Homo sapiens: one gene and its partners. The protein of the gene in region 1 interacts with the protein of each later gene in a pairwise test. Each region holds a gene or a part of one and is shown in the gene's direction. Other genes may lie near its edges.

Region 1 (3,500 bases):
TTGACTGTATAGGATCTGTATTATCTGCACCCTCTCTTCCACCATCAGGGGCCCACTGCCAATTACTCCCTGCCATGGGGGACAAAGACTGGCCCCTTCGCCTCAAGCAGGACCACTGTGTGGTGCAGTTTATGCTCCAGGGCCCGGCGAGATCTGGCTGAGGCTGAGTTCATCCTTGCTCAAGCTCGCTCTGCGGCTTCCCACTGCGCTCACTCTCTGTCTTCTGAGAGTCTCCGCAGTGAAATCATATGCACCCAGATCCCTCTTTCACGCTCTGCTTTCAGGGAACCAGCCCCAAACAGCTCACTCCTCTGACCACCCCTTCTAAAGTAGCCCCTAGCCTTCCCCACCCTCACCAGCCTCGAATCCAATAATTATCAAAGCTTTTCCGATTGTGGTTCACGGTGAAAAGTACTTGTGAACAACCACACGCCTACGTATATTAAAAATATTCAGGCCAGGCGCACTGGCTCAAGCCTATAATCCCAGCACTCTGGGAGGCCAAGGCAGGAGGATCGCTTGAGCCCAGGAGTTCAAGACCAGCCTGGGCAACATGGCAAAACCCCGTCTCTACAAAAAATACAAAAATTAGCCAGGCATGGAGGCACGCACCTGTAGTCTCATCTATTTGGGAGGCTGAGGCAGGAGGATTGCTTGAGCCCTGAAGGCCAAGGCTGCAAAGAACCAACATCCTGCCACTGTACTCCAGTCTGGGTGACAGAGCGAAACCCTGTCTCAAAAAGAAAAAAATAGCTGGGCGTGGTGGCTCATGCCTGTAATCTCAGCACTTTGGGAGGCTGAGGTGGGGGGATCACTTGAGGTCAAGAGTTCGAGACCAGCCTGGCCAACATGGTGAAACCCCATCTCTACTAAAAATACAAAAATTAGCCAGGTGTGGTGGCGCATGCCTATAATCCCAGCTACTCGGGAGGCTGAGGCAGAAGAATTGCTTGAACCTGGGAGGCAGAGGTTGCAGTGAGCCGAGATTGTGCCACTGCACTCCAGCCTGGGCGACAAGAGCAAAACTCTGTCTAAAAAAAAAAAAAGAAAAGAAAAGAAAAAAAATACATTCTGTCAGTTCGCACTGCCGTAGCCAAAAAGTGGTTGCTAAACATTGAGCTGCTTCTGAGCTAGTTTGTAAATAGTTACTGCCCCAGCCGTCCCCTGGCGTCCCTAAGCCTCTCCTTCCCCACCCAATAATGAAAGAGTCAGTGCTGGGTACGGTAAAGGACACGTGGGCCTCTGAACACAGTAGCTTCGTAGCGAATGTTTCTTAGAAAAGGAGCTTCAGGTGTTCCTTTCCCAGGGCTACTGGATTTTGCTAGCAGACTCCTGAAAACGAATAGGTTTGCCAGGCCACAGGATTCATGATGGCGTTTCAGGTGTGGTGAGGGGTGATGGGATTGAGATCTGAGGCCAGTGCTGTGTGTGCGTCTGCACAGGGCCCTGTAAGCAGAGAGTCGACAAAGAGTTATTGGGCACCCAACTCCGCATCAGGTGCTGGCTCAGATATAGAGACAGAGGTGAGCAAAGCACTCAAAAGTTTCTGCCTGCGGGGAGCTTACGGTCTATCAGAGGTGACAGGCAATCAGCAAGAAGGATGAGTAGGGCCGGGTGCAGTGGCTCATGCCTGTAATCCCAGCACGTTGGGGGGCAGGTGGATCACCTAAGGTCAGGAGTTTGAGACCAGCCTGGCCAACATGGTGAAACCCCATCTCTACTAAAAATACAAAAATTAGCCAGGTGTGGTGGCGCGCACCTGTAATCCCAGCTACTCGGGAGGCTGAGGCAGGAGAATTGCTTGAACCAGGGAGGCAGAGGTTGCAGTGAGCCCAGATTGTGCCACTGCACTCCAGCCTGGGCAACAGAGTGAGACTTTGTCTCAAAAAAATAAAAGTTAAAAAAAAAAATAGAAAAATTAACTGGGCATGGTGGCATGTGCCTGTAGTCCCAGTTACTCAGGTGGCTGAGGCACAAGAATTGCTTGAATCCAGGAGGCGGAGATTGCAGTGAGCCGAGATTGTGCCACTGCACTCCAGCCTGGGCAACAGAGCGAGACTCTGTCTCAAGAAGGAAAGAGACAGAGAGACAGAGAGACAAAGGGAGAGAGAGAGAGAGTAAAGTATAGTGTAAGGAGACACATTAGTGAGTGCATGTGGATGGAAGTGAGGTCAGGAGGCTGTTGGGGGGCAGGACCCCAAGGACCTTGTGAGCCTCTCTATCAACCTGACTTTTCCTGTATGTGAGATGGGGTCGTGCAGGGTTCACGTCCAAGGGTGAGTGACCTCACTCACATGTGAACAACGTCACTCTGGCCGTCACACCTAGTGGGAGCAGAGAGACTCAGACTCAGTGTGAGGCTACTGTCAGAGCCAAGGTGAGCAGTGAAGGTGGCTGAGACCAGGACGGAGGCAGCACAGATGGGGAGACATGATTGGATTCTGCCTGTTGTGAAGCTGGAGCCACAGGACTGGCTGGAGGCCAGATGCAGGAGTGGTAGAGGGGAGGTAGGATGTGGACGAGCATTGGCGTCCCTGGGAGGACACAGCGTCCATCCTGGGGCAGGCACTGGGGAGGAGTTGAGGAGTTCAGTTTGGGACATGACACTGGAGATGCTTATTAGATACCAGGTGGGGAGGTCGAGCGGGCCATGGAGGGCTGAGTCTGCAGTTCTGGGGCTAAAGAGAGATGTCTGGGAACTGTCAGCACAAAAGGAGCCATGAGACTGGATGAGATCATCCGGGTCTGAGGACTGAGCCACAGGCACCGTGCAGACCAGGAGGACACAGAAGGGCATGGGAGGACGTGGAAGGACATGGAAAACTCCAAGTGGCCCAGAGGAAACTGTGGTCAGCCCTGCCTTCCAGAGTTGGGGGAGTGTAAGAGCTGAGGCCCAAAGGAGGAGTCAGGGATGCTAAGCCGTGGAAAGGGTAGTGGAAGGACTTTCCTTCCGGAAAGGGATGACAGCGTGGACAAAGGCCGAGAGGTGGGGAACGAGGCTGGAGGATCACGGGCCATTCACACAGGCAGTGAAAGTCAGCCTGAGGATTTAGCCCAGAGGTGATGGAGCCCCTGAAGGGTGTGTGTGGAGGGCAGAGGAGAGGGGACAAGACAGGGGGACGGCTCAGGAGGCTGCGGCGGGGCAAGGCCAGTACCCGGTGGCCTTCAGCAGAGCAAAGGAGGTGGAGCACAAGCTGGACCTCTGCTGGAAACAGCAGGAATGACTTCAGCCTTGGGGCAGCTGGCTGGCAGGATGCAGACACACCATGGGTCCTGTTAAGGCCAAATCTGCTTCGGGCACCAAGATGTCAAGAGGTGCTAGACTTGGAGTTTGTCCTGGCAGGTGATATGGCAAAGTGTCACCAGAGCCTGCCGTGGGCACGAATGTGTGGGGCAGAGAGGTTTCCAGGCAGTGAGAGGTGGCAGCTGAGCTGAGCCACCAAGGATGGGAAGGGCTGGAGCTACAGAGATGGAGAGAAGGGCCCTTCAGCCTTTGGGAA
Region 2 (3,500 bases), on another chromosome or scaffold:
TAGATATTTTTGTTGTGTGGCAAGTGGGTTTTAAAATTTTTATTTTGAAATGTTTGTTATTGATATATAGAAATAAAGTGAATTTTGTGTTGATTTTGAACTCAACTAAACTTAAAAATTTTAATAATTTATATATTCTTTTGGGTTTTCTATTAGGTTGGTGCAAAAGTGATTGCTGTTTTTGCCATTACTTTTAATGCTGTTTAATGCTCCCACCAGAAGAGCTAATGCACATAGCGTTGTTCCAACTGACCTTTTAAAAAATAAAATAGAGAATCCAGGCTCAAGTCTGGATTAGTTCTCTATTGCTTTGTAACAAAGCAATGGCAAAATAGCACTCACTTTTGCACCAACCTAACACACATAATCCTGCCAATAATGACGGTGTTGTTACTTCCTCTTCAATCTGTGTGCCTTTATTTCTTTTTCTTATCTTACTGTGCCGGCTGGTGCCTGCACAACAGTTTTTTTTTTTTTTTTAAAGAGGTGATGATACCAAAGATGGTATTCTTATATTATTCCCAAGTTCAAAAGGAAAATGTTAAGCTGGACGTGGTGGCTCACACCTGTAATCCTAGCACTTTGGGAGGCCGAGGTGGGTGCATCACCTGAGGTCAGGAGTTTGAGACCAGCCTCACCAACATGGTGAAACCCTATCTCTACAAAAATACAAAAATTAGCCAGACGTGATGGCGGTTGCCTGTAATCCCAGCTGTTCGGGAGGTTGAGGCAGGAGAATTGCTTGAACCTGGGAGGTGGAGGTTGTAGTAAGCCGAGATTGCACCACCGTACTCCAGCCTGAGTGACAGAGCCAGACTCTGTCTCAAAAAAAAAGGAAAATGTTTAATTTCTCATCAGTAATTGTGCTGTTTGCTAATGGCTTTTTTTGTAGATAAGCTCTATGAGATTAAGAAACCTTTATTCCAAATTTGCTAAGAGATTTTTTAAAATGAGAAGTGGATGTTGAAATTCATCTAATGCTTTTTCCGTATTTATTGAGATGATTGTGTGACTTACTCCTTTTATCTGCTAATGTTGTGAATTAAATAAATTGACTTTTTATTATTTTGTTCATTTCTTCAGTCATTGCTTATTAGATTTATCAGAGACCACACGTTGCATTTATTTGCCTTGTCTCTTTAATCTCTTTTCATCAAGAATAGTTCTCTCGGCTTTTTGTTTGTTTCTTTTGTGTCAGTGAACATCTTCAGCTGGTTTTTGTGTATGAACAACAAACAGTGATGTTCATGAATCCCCTAGTTGGTGATGCCAAATTTGATAACTTGGTGAAGGTGTGGCTGCCTGACTTTTTTCCCTTGTGAAGGTACCTGCCCCATGTGGTTTATAAATTATCCATAGGGAGATACTGTGAGACTGTGTGATTACCCTTTTTCCCAGTGATTTTTAGCATCCATTGATACTTCTTGCCTAAATTTTTACCATGGTGATTGGAAGATGGTGATTTTTCTGTCATTCCTTCTTCCTTCTGCTATTGTCAGTTGGGTTTCCTCCATAAAAAAGAGATTCCCTTTTTTCCCCCACTTAAATAAATATTTAACTGAACTCCCCCCTCCTTTTTGTCTTATCTTTTTCATATGAAATTCATCTATGGGGGGCTAAGCAGGGAGGATAGCTTGAACCCAGGAGTTGGAGACCAGCTCGGGCAATATAGTGAGACCCCGTCTCCAAAAAAAAAGAAAAGAAAAGAAAAGAAATTCACTTATGGACTCTTATTAATCTGTGTGTTGTAATCCAGGCCTGTTATTTTTCATTTTGATGCCAAAGTTATTACAGATTTGGCCAGTGAGAGCCTCTTCAAGGTAACTTCTGTGGCCCTATCAATTTTTAAGCACTTTTAAACTTCATGGTACAAGATTTTCCCTGCTAACCTTGTATTTCCTCTATCCCAAACCTGGAATCAGCTGTTTCTTCAAGGCTTCCATTGGTAGGGGAGTGTTATTTAGAAACCAAGGTCCAGGTGCTAGGAATGTTTGTTGATGCTGAAGTGTTATTGTCTAGGCCCTTTCAGTGACAAAACTAAGAAATGTAGTTTTCTTTTTTAAAAACATCCAATAAATTTATAAAGTTATCTTTAATTTAGGTAGAATTACACTTTTTCATCTCCTTCTTTCATTCCATATTTGTATTGTCCTTCACCCACAGTGCAAATCTGGGTTACAGACACATCAATGAATTTACTCACTTACTGAATCCTACAATACATACAACACAGTACTGGAATTGCTATGACAACACCACCAACAACAAATGAAGTTCAAAATTCCTTTGCCATACTTCCGTCCTTTAGAATATATCCCACTCAGGGTGTATAATCAAAATATTGTGTTCAGAATCACTTGAATTTTTTTTTGTTCTTTCTGTGTAATTATATAACCTAGTGGCATACAGTTAAGTGTGTCTGTATTTAATTTTGTGTTTCTTCTGTTCTTGCTTTTTACTAAGTCTTTTCAATATATAAAACATTAACATTGTTCAAAAGTCGAAGCTATATGAAAAGATGTACTCAGAGAGGTCCCATCCCCTTCCCCTACCCTTTCTATCCCATTTCTGTCATTCCTGTAGGTAACCAATTTTATTAGTTTAATATCCTTTTTCTTTTTGAGAAAATATATTCTTATTTTCCTTTATTCTTGCACAAGATAACCTACTATACATGTTTTTTGCATTTTGATTTTTTTACTTAATTATATGTCCTGAAAATTATACTACATCAGTTCAGAGATCTTTATTTTTTTCCAACTGCAGAATATTCCAGTATGTACCATATATACCACCAGCCTCCCAACATGGCCATTAGGTTGTTTCCAATATTTTGCTATTACAAATACTACTGTCATGAACAGTCACATGCATGTATCTTTTTCAAGTTCAGCTTATGCTAGGCTATACATCTAACTTAGGATAAATTCCTGGAACTGGGATTTCTGGGTCAGAGGGTGAACACACATATAGATTTGTTAGGTATTACCAAATTTCCTTCCATAAGGATTGTACCAATTTGCATTCCTACCAGCAATATATATGAAATTGCTTATTTTTTCATAGCTTGACAATAAAGCTATATTGACAACAAAGCATGCAGTCAAGACTTAGAATTTTTGCAAATGTCATAGGTAAGAAACATTTTAGTTTATCTTATTACAATGTAATTTGATTATGTTTTCATATTTTTAAGGACCATGTGGTCTCAAGGTTACAAAAAGCAATGGGAAATGAATATTTTCCTATTCAGTTAGATGATAGCCTTTGGGAATCATACATACATACATAACATATGTATATGTGTGTGTTCATATTAAGGAAATAACCATAAATTTCTACATCCTTGAGTTTTAATTCATCAGAAATTCATATTAAATTTTGTTAAAGGCCTTTTCAGCATGTATAGAAATAATCATATGATTATTTACCCTTAGATCTATTATGTTGAGTTATATTAATAGACTTGCTAATACTGAATGATCCATTGGGATTGTATA
Region 3 (3,500 bases), on another chromosome or scaffold:
TTCATTCTTTTACCTTTCTGTCCCCACCCTGCTTGCCCCCATTGTATGGTGCTGATACTCTGCCTTTCTTTCTTCTCCTTAACTTAAGCTGTCACTGGCCATCACTTCAGGAAGCTTACCTTGTAGGGGCTGTTTATATTTCCGTTTAATCTTCTCATTGCTTATTGTCTATCCAGGAGATATAAATGCAGAGATCCCTCAACTCTGATTAAATCTAAAGTACCCTTAAAAGTACTTAAAGTACTTAAGAAGTGGTACTTAAGATAGGTTTTAGCCAAATAAAAGGTTGAATTTACTTAAATGTTTCAGGGTTTTTTTTTGTTTTTGTCTTTCATTAATGAGGGTATATGCTATTTGGAAATTTGAAGAAAAAAACTACAGGTGATGCTGACTGTCAGCAAGCCAGCTGCTTTTCCAGCACTGGGAGATTTGTGCTCTTCCTATCACATGCTTTCATTTGGGTTCTCTTGTGAACCCACAGCATATTTTTGCAAAGGTCTGACTTATATTCTAACATTTTGAATTTCTCTGTATGGTTAAAGAACTTAGCAAAAGCTATGTTTTTCAGTTTGGTTGCTACATTAGCCACAGGGTACAGAAAGGGTCAGGGTAAGTAAAATAATCCAAAACTCTGTATAGTCAAGCAGCTTTCCAGTAATGTTTCAGAGCAGTTACGGGGACTTAGACTTCCTCTATTCCTGCCTTACCCCTTACTCTGTGGTAGAGATTCTAATGAATAGATAAAAGAACATTGCAGCAAAAACCAAAATAATGCAGACCAGCTAGTCAGTGCACATAATAGTGTTGACTGTTTGAGGACAGTTCTTTTCCTTTTTGCTCCTAAGCTCCTGTCATATCTTCATCTTTATCACCAGGACTCCCTGGGAGTTGCTTGCTGACCCTCCTGTTCAGAGCACTGCATAGCAAAGGTAGTGGGTAACCATGCAAGCTTCTTTGCTGCTGTCCTGTCTTCCTCTCAGTAGTCTGTCTACTGTAATAGTTCCTCCCTTTTTACAGGTGAATGCCCTGGATGGGTATAACCGAACAGCCCTCCACTATGCAGCAGAGAAAGATGAGGCTTGTGTGGAGGTCCTATTGGAGTATGGTGCAAACCCCAATGCTTTGGATGGCAACAGAGATACCCCACTTCACTGGGCAGCCTTTAAGAACAATGCTGAGTGTGTGCGGGCTCTCCTAGAGAGCGGGGCCTCTGTCAATGCCCTGGATTACAACAATGATACACCGCTCAGCTGGGCTGCCATGAAGGGAAATCTTGAGAGTGTCAGCATCCTTCTGGATTATGGCGCAGAGGTCAGAGTCATCAACCTAATAGGCCAGACACCCATCTCCCGCCTGGTGGCTCTGCTAGTCAGGGGACTTGGAACAGAGAAAGAGGACTCTTGCTTTGAGCTCCTCCACAGAGCTGTTGGACACTTTGAATTGAGGAAAAATGGCACCATGCCACGAGAGGTGGCCAGAGACCCGCAGCTATGTGAAAAACTGACTGTTCTGTGCTCAGCTCCAGGAACTCTAAAAACACTCGCTCGCTATGCCGTGCGCCGTAGCCTGGGACTCCAGTATCTCCCCGATGCAGTGAAGGGCCTTCCACTGCCAGCTTCTTTGAAGGAATACCTGTTACTTTTAGAATAGCCGGAGAAGATGTTTGCACCATCGTGCAGGCAGCTCTGGGTGAGGTTGTCCCTGCAGTACTCCTTGTCACAGAAAACAGAAAAACAGTTGTTCCTGTTGTGTGGTTTATAGATTTCGAAGCAACATGTCACAACAATAACCTCCATAGCACCTCCCCTTCCCAAACCAAACAACCCAACAAAAAAAATCCCTCACTTTTGTTTTCTGTTTATTGCTTACCTGGCTTTTTATATTGCATTTTGCAAAAGAAGAGGTCTCCCTCAATCCTCCCCTTTAGGGAAGGAGTCAACAGTGTAACTAAATTTCTCTAGGAAGATGGAAAGTACTTAAATAATGTGTGTGTGGTTTTCCTTTGGGGACGTGGTTAACGGTCCAGAAGAATCCCTTCTAGAAAGCATTTTAGGCCAGCCATGGTGGCTCACGTCTGTAATCCCAGGACTTTGGGAGGCTGAGGCAGGTGGATCACCTGAGGTCAGGAGTTCGAGCCCAGCCTGACCAATATGATGAAACCCCGTCTCTACTAAAAATACAAAAATTAGCTGGGCATGGTGGCATGCGCCTGTAATCCCAGCTACTCAGGAGGCTGAGACAGAAGAATCGCTTGAACCTGTGAGGCAGAGGTTGCAGTGAGCCAAGATCGCGCCATTGCACTCCAGCCTGGACAACAAGAGCAAAACTGTCTCAAAAAAAAAAAAAAAAAAAAAAAACCATTTTAATTGATCTGTGAAAAAACTTAAGAAAATCACAATTTCAGCTAACAGCAATTGTGTCCCAAAGATGAAGATACTATAACCTCAAATGGTGCAGATCCAGAACTGGGCTGGATGACATCCCTACTGTGCCATGTCCTGGGGCATTTGGAAGGGACTGGACCTCTTTCCCCTCATCAAAGGAAACAGCAGTCTTTGCCTCTTTCTGTTGGTTGTGCCCAAGGGCTACAGTAGCTCTGAAATAACAAGAGCTCTGTAATAACAGTAATAAATAGCTCTGAAATAACAGTCCTAAGAACTCCTAAAGTCCTGAGAACTTTTCTTGTAATGCAGCTTTTTCTCTTCCTGAGAAACAGTGTGTTCTAATGGGATTCCCAGGCAGTTCCTACACCTACGGTGTGTGTTCCAGCAGGGAGGAGTTATGGGCTGGGCTGCCTTTTCCCATGGGTCTTCATTCCCAATGGAAAGTTCACTCTGCTTAGTTTGGAATTATTTTTCTTTCAGTTGTTCTGGAACCTTTGCTTTTTATTGATTTATACAATACAATTGGTGGGAGGGTGGACTTGGGATGGGAGTGGGAAAAGCATGTAAGAGCTCCTTTTGTGATGGTCCATCTACCCAAAAGAGATCTGCTTTAGTGAACGATACTCTTTCATTTTTCTAAATTAGATCAAGTTGTTATTGATTTTAGATGACTTGTATGCAAATTTGAAAAACTTTTTTTTTTAAAGCTGATTGGGAACTACAAACAATGAATGGAATCTACTGACACAGCTAATTGGAAAACAGATGTCTTCTTCTGTCCTATTGATGCTGGTGTTTAAAAAACATCACTTAAAAAAAAAGAATAAATAGTTCTAAAAGCAAGTTTGGCAATTTCTACTTTTCCTACTTTTCTCCAACCCCCCTTAGAAAAAGTTCTTCGTTTACTGCCTGGCTGTTCTATGTAACTTTCCATCCCAACCTTTCTCCCATTAGCAGCAGTGATTCTGGGCATTGCTGGAGTGAACAGGAGGGCTTGGGCAGAGTATCTGAAGAGCTTCCCCTTCCTTTATACCTTCTCCCACCCCAAATTTGGAATTACTGCTTTTATGTTCTCAACTCCAGCTGCACATAAAATCACTAAGGAAGCTTTTTAAA
Region 4 (3,500 bases), on another chromosome or scaffold:
TCTCTGGACTCTTAGGAGACACAGGTGGGCACCTGTGGGAAGTGGTGGTTTAGACATGTGACATTGAGTGAAAACTTGCGCAGGACCATGCTGGATGTGTGACCTTTAAAATGGGCAAACACACTAAATGCTTCTTGTGAATGTGAATGCCCACATGTGTGATGAAAGTACAAAAGCTTATGGGAATGAGGCCCACAAATTCACCCATGATTTTACCCCAAAAGATAATCACTCTGGAATGTTTGAGTCTGGCTAAGCAATTTTAATGTTAAAGATTGCTTTTTCATCAGAGATTTCATCCTGAGCATTTCTCCACATCATTAAAAACTCCTTTGTAACGTCCATCTTAATGACCCCATAAAAGTGTTGTTCAGTGGCCATACCCTGGTTTACTTAATGGTTCCTCTGTTGTTGGACCTTTATTGGTTTCCAAGTATTCTTTTTTTGGTTATAAACAGTGTCATGAGGGACACTGGGCACAAATCTTTCTTTGTGTCTTATATGATTTCTTTAGGAGTGATTCCTTGAAGAGGAAGATTGGGTTGGGTATTTTTGAGGTATTTTGATATTATTTCCACATCAGTTACGGCGGTATGTATTCCCACCAGCATGTCTGAGCGGGTCTCTGATGATTTATATGGCTGTTGTCAGGCATTTATTCTGCATGTTGGATATATTTAGATTGGTGCAATATTGCACCATGATAATAAATGATAAATGGATATAAATGACAAATGCTATAAACCATGATGAGCCTGATAGGGGACAAATGGTGCCACGTGATTTATTTCTGAGTAGCATTGTTTGTATTATTAGTGAAGTTCAAGTCTTAGAAAATGTTTACTAGCCATTTCTGTGGGCAGGGAAATGATCCATCTTGTGCTTTAGCAGTCTACAGGAATCTGAGTATGCTTTAAAGACTTTACAGAAGCAAATGTGTGTGTGTAAATATTTGTGGCAAATATTCTTCCCAGATTTGCTTTTTGTTTCTTTATTTTACTTTATTTTTTCTGTATAAAAGCATTTCATATTTTTAAAATCAAATCTGTTGGTTTCTCCCACTGTGGTGTCTTTCTTCATCTTTAAGCTGTGAAAGGGTTTCTCCATCCACAGGTCACATAGCAGCTATATTTTCTTCCTTTTCACCATTTGTCATTTGAATGTTAACAATGAACTTTTGAATCTACCTGTAATTGATTTTGCTATATAAATGTGTCAGTAGACTTATTTGGGAGCTTTGGTTTATTCTGTCTTCATTTGTTTGGTACCTTTGTTGAGGTACACATCACGTATCACAAAGTGTACAATTCACTGATTTTGGGTACATTCATAGAGTCGCGTTAACCATCACCACAGTCCATTTCAGAATATTTTCATCATCCTGAAAAAGAGCCGAGTACCCATTGGCACTCATTTCCATTTTCCCCCATCAGTCCACGGCCCCTGGCAACCAGTAATCAGCTTTCTGTCTCTATGAATTTGACTGTTCTGGACATTTCAAATAAATGGAATCATACATGGTGTGGTCTTTTGTGACTGGCTTCTTTCACTCAGCATAATATTTGCAAGGTTCAACCATGTGGTAGCACATATAGAGCTTCATTCCTTTTTTTGACTGAATAATATTCCAGTGTGTGTTTCTACATATTTTATTTATCCTTTCATCAGTTGATGGACATTTGGGTTGTTTCCACTTTTTGGCTATTATGAATAATGCTGCTATGAATATTCATGTATAAGTCTTTGAACATATGTTCTCAGTTCTCTTAGGTGTGTACCTGGAAGTGGAATGTTGGGTCATATGGTTAACTCTGTTGAACCAGTAAAGGAACCACCAGACTGTTTTCCTAAGCGATTGCACCATGATGCCTTCATTTTTGTCTCATCTGTGATTCTTGCCTTGAATTCTTCTTTTACCTACATTACTTAGAAAGATTTGTTGATTGTTTTTATTTCAACAGGGTTGGGAGTTTTGGTTTAAGTTTTTTTTTTTTTTAATTACTACTAGTGTAATTACATTCAATTTTTAAAAAAAATTGAGCCTGTCTGGTTTCAGCGTTTTCCCTGTGGTGAAATGGTTTGTGTCATTAGACAGGAAACCGAAAAAGATGGAGTACTAGAAAAAGGGGCCTTGGACACGTACGTGCAGAGAACTCAGAGGCCCTTTGTTAGCACTTCTGTCCCAACACGATGGGCTCCCAGACCTGGAAGGCTGTGTTCTGTGTCTCAGCACAACCCTGGTGCCAGTCTGGGCTTGGTGCCTGGAGACTGCTCAGTGAATAGTTGAGTGAATTAGGTGGGTGTACTTAGGGAAGACTTCCAGAAGGAATTGTTGTATTACAATTTTGTAAAATAAATAAATATAGGTGTGAGAGGGAACTTTTGGAGGTAATGGATCCGTTTATGGCCTTGATGGTGGTGATGGTTCCACGGGTGTATATGCATCTGCAAACTCATCAAGTTATGTATATTATTAAATATGCACAGCTTTTTATATATCAGTCACACCTCAATCAAGTAGTTTAAATTTTTAGAAAAGGAGGAATTATTAGCTGGGCTGGCTGAAAGATACATTGGGCCAAAAGGTCAAATAATATCATATAAGGATCTACAGTTGTACATAAGATATATATTAAATATCAACATTAAATAATAGCAAGAGTCGACATTTACTGAGAGCTTCCTCCATCACACGAGGCACTGTGTTTGGACCATATTTGTACACATTTAACCTTACGACCCTGTGGAGGGGGACATTGTTATCAGGAAGCCTGCCTCTCATATGAGGCTTAGAAAGAGAAAGACAGTTGTCCAAGGAAACACAGCTCATGAGGGGCAGAGCCAGGATTCCGTTGCAGAGTGTGGTTCCTGAGCCTACACTCTGAACCACCAGCCCAACTGCTTTCTATCAAAGGTGACCCCTCAGGCAGAGGAGGCTATCTTGAGCCCAAGCCCCAGAAGGGCACCCTAGGACCATAGAGGGACTAGCCAGCGGGGGTGAGGCCTCCCCTTGGGATTCAGTTGGTGGTGGGGACACTCAGTATGCTGGAGAGAGCCAGTGAGCTCTGAGTGTCAGTAACAATAGCTGGCACTTATTGAGTGCCTGCTGTATGCTATGCATTACCATTCTGAGTGTCTTACATAAATAAGTGGGCAGGTGGGGCCTGTAGCAAATTGGAGCTTTCTTGCCCCATCAAAGGGTCAGCCACCACTCAGCTCCAGCCTAGAGTGGCCAGATATTCTGCTGTTTAAAGAGAAACTAGAAATTCATTTTCTTGGTAAATTGTGGATGTGTTTTTCATGTGAGTAACAATTAAAAACAATTTTGAAACCCCCATAGGAGCAAAATAGAAATGTGTACAGCTGGCTTCAGGCCCAGGTACATCTCATATGCTCTGTGTGCTCAGAACTCCCGTTCTTTCCTTGTGCCTTGGGGGTTGTACCACTGAATCAGTTCAGAACAGCAGGTCCCTCTGTAGGACACAATAGGTCTCTCATTA

The links.
Region 2: the proteins of RIN3 (region 1) and PLB1 interact in a two-hybrid assay, tested with the Homo sapiens proteins (one large-scale study listed by BioGRID and IntAct).
Region 3: the proteins of RIN3 (region 1) and ASB8 interact in a two-hybrid assay, tested with the Homo sapiens proteins (one large-scale study listed by BioGRID and IntAct).
Region 4: the proteins of RIN3 (region 1) and ZNF71 interact in a two-hybrid assay, tested with the Homo sapiens proteins (one large-scale study listed by BioGRID and IntAct).

What each region holds. Positions count from the first base shown.
Region 1 is NC_000014.9:92,653,281-92,656,780, forward strand, and holds part of RIN3 (ras and Rab interactor 3), read left to right. Parts: intron 1-3,500. UniProt on the Homo sapiens protein: Ras effector protein that functions as a guanine nucleotide exchange (GEF) for RAB5B and RAB31, by exchanging bound GDP for free GTP. Required for normal RAB31 function.
Region 2 is NC_000002.12:28,499,060-28,502,559, forward strand, and holds part of PLB1 (phospholipase B1, membrane-associated isoform 1 precursor), read left to right. Parts: intron 1-3,500. UniProt on the Homo sapiens protein: Calcium-independent membrane-associated phospholipase that catalyzes complete diacylation of phospholipids by hydrolyzing both sn-1 and sn-2 fatty acyl chains attached to the glycerol backbone (phospholipase B activity).
Region 3 is NC_000012.12:48,147,516-48,151,015, reverse strand, and holds the end of ASB8 (ankyrin repeat and SOCS box protein 8), read left to right. Parts: intron 1-875; coding exon of another isoform or gene 876-899; exon of another isoform or gene 900-929; intron 930-1,017; coding exon 1,018-1,650; 3' UTR 1,651-3,227; downstream 3,228-3,500. UniProt on the Homo sapiens protein: May be a substrate-recognition component of a SCF-like ECS (Elongin-Cullin-SOCS-box protein) E3 ubiquitin-protein ligase complex which mediates the ubiquitination and subsequent proteasomal degradation of target proteins.
Region 4 is NC_000019.10:56,601,802-56,605,301, forward strand, and holds part of ZNF71 (endothelial zinc finger protein induced by tumor necrosis factor alpha), read left to right. Parts: intron 1-3,500. UniProt on the Homo sapiens protein: May be involved in transcriptional regulation.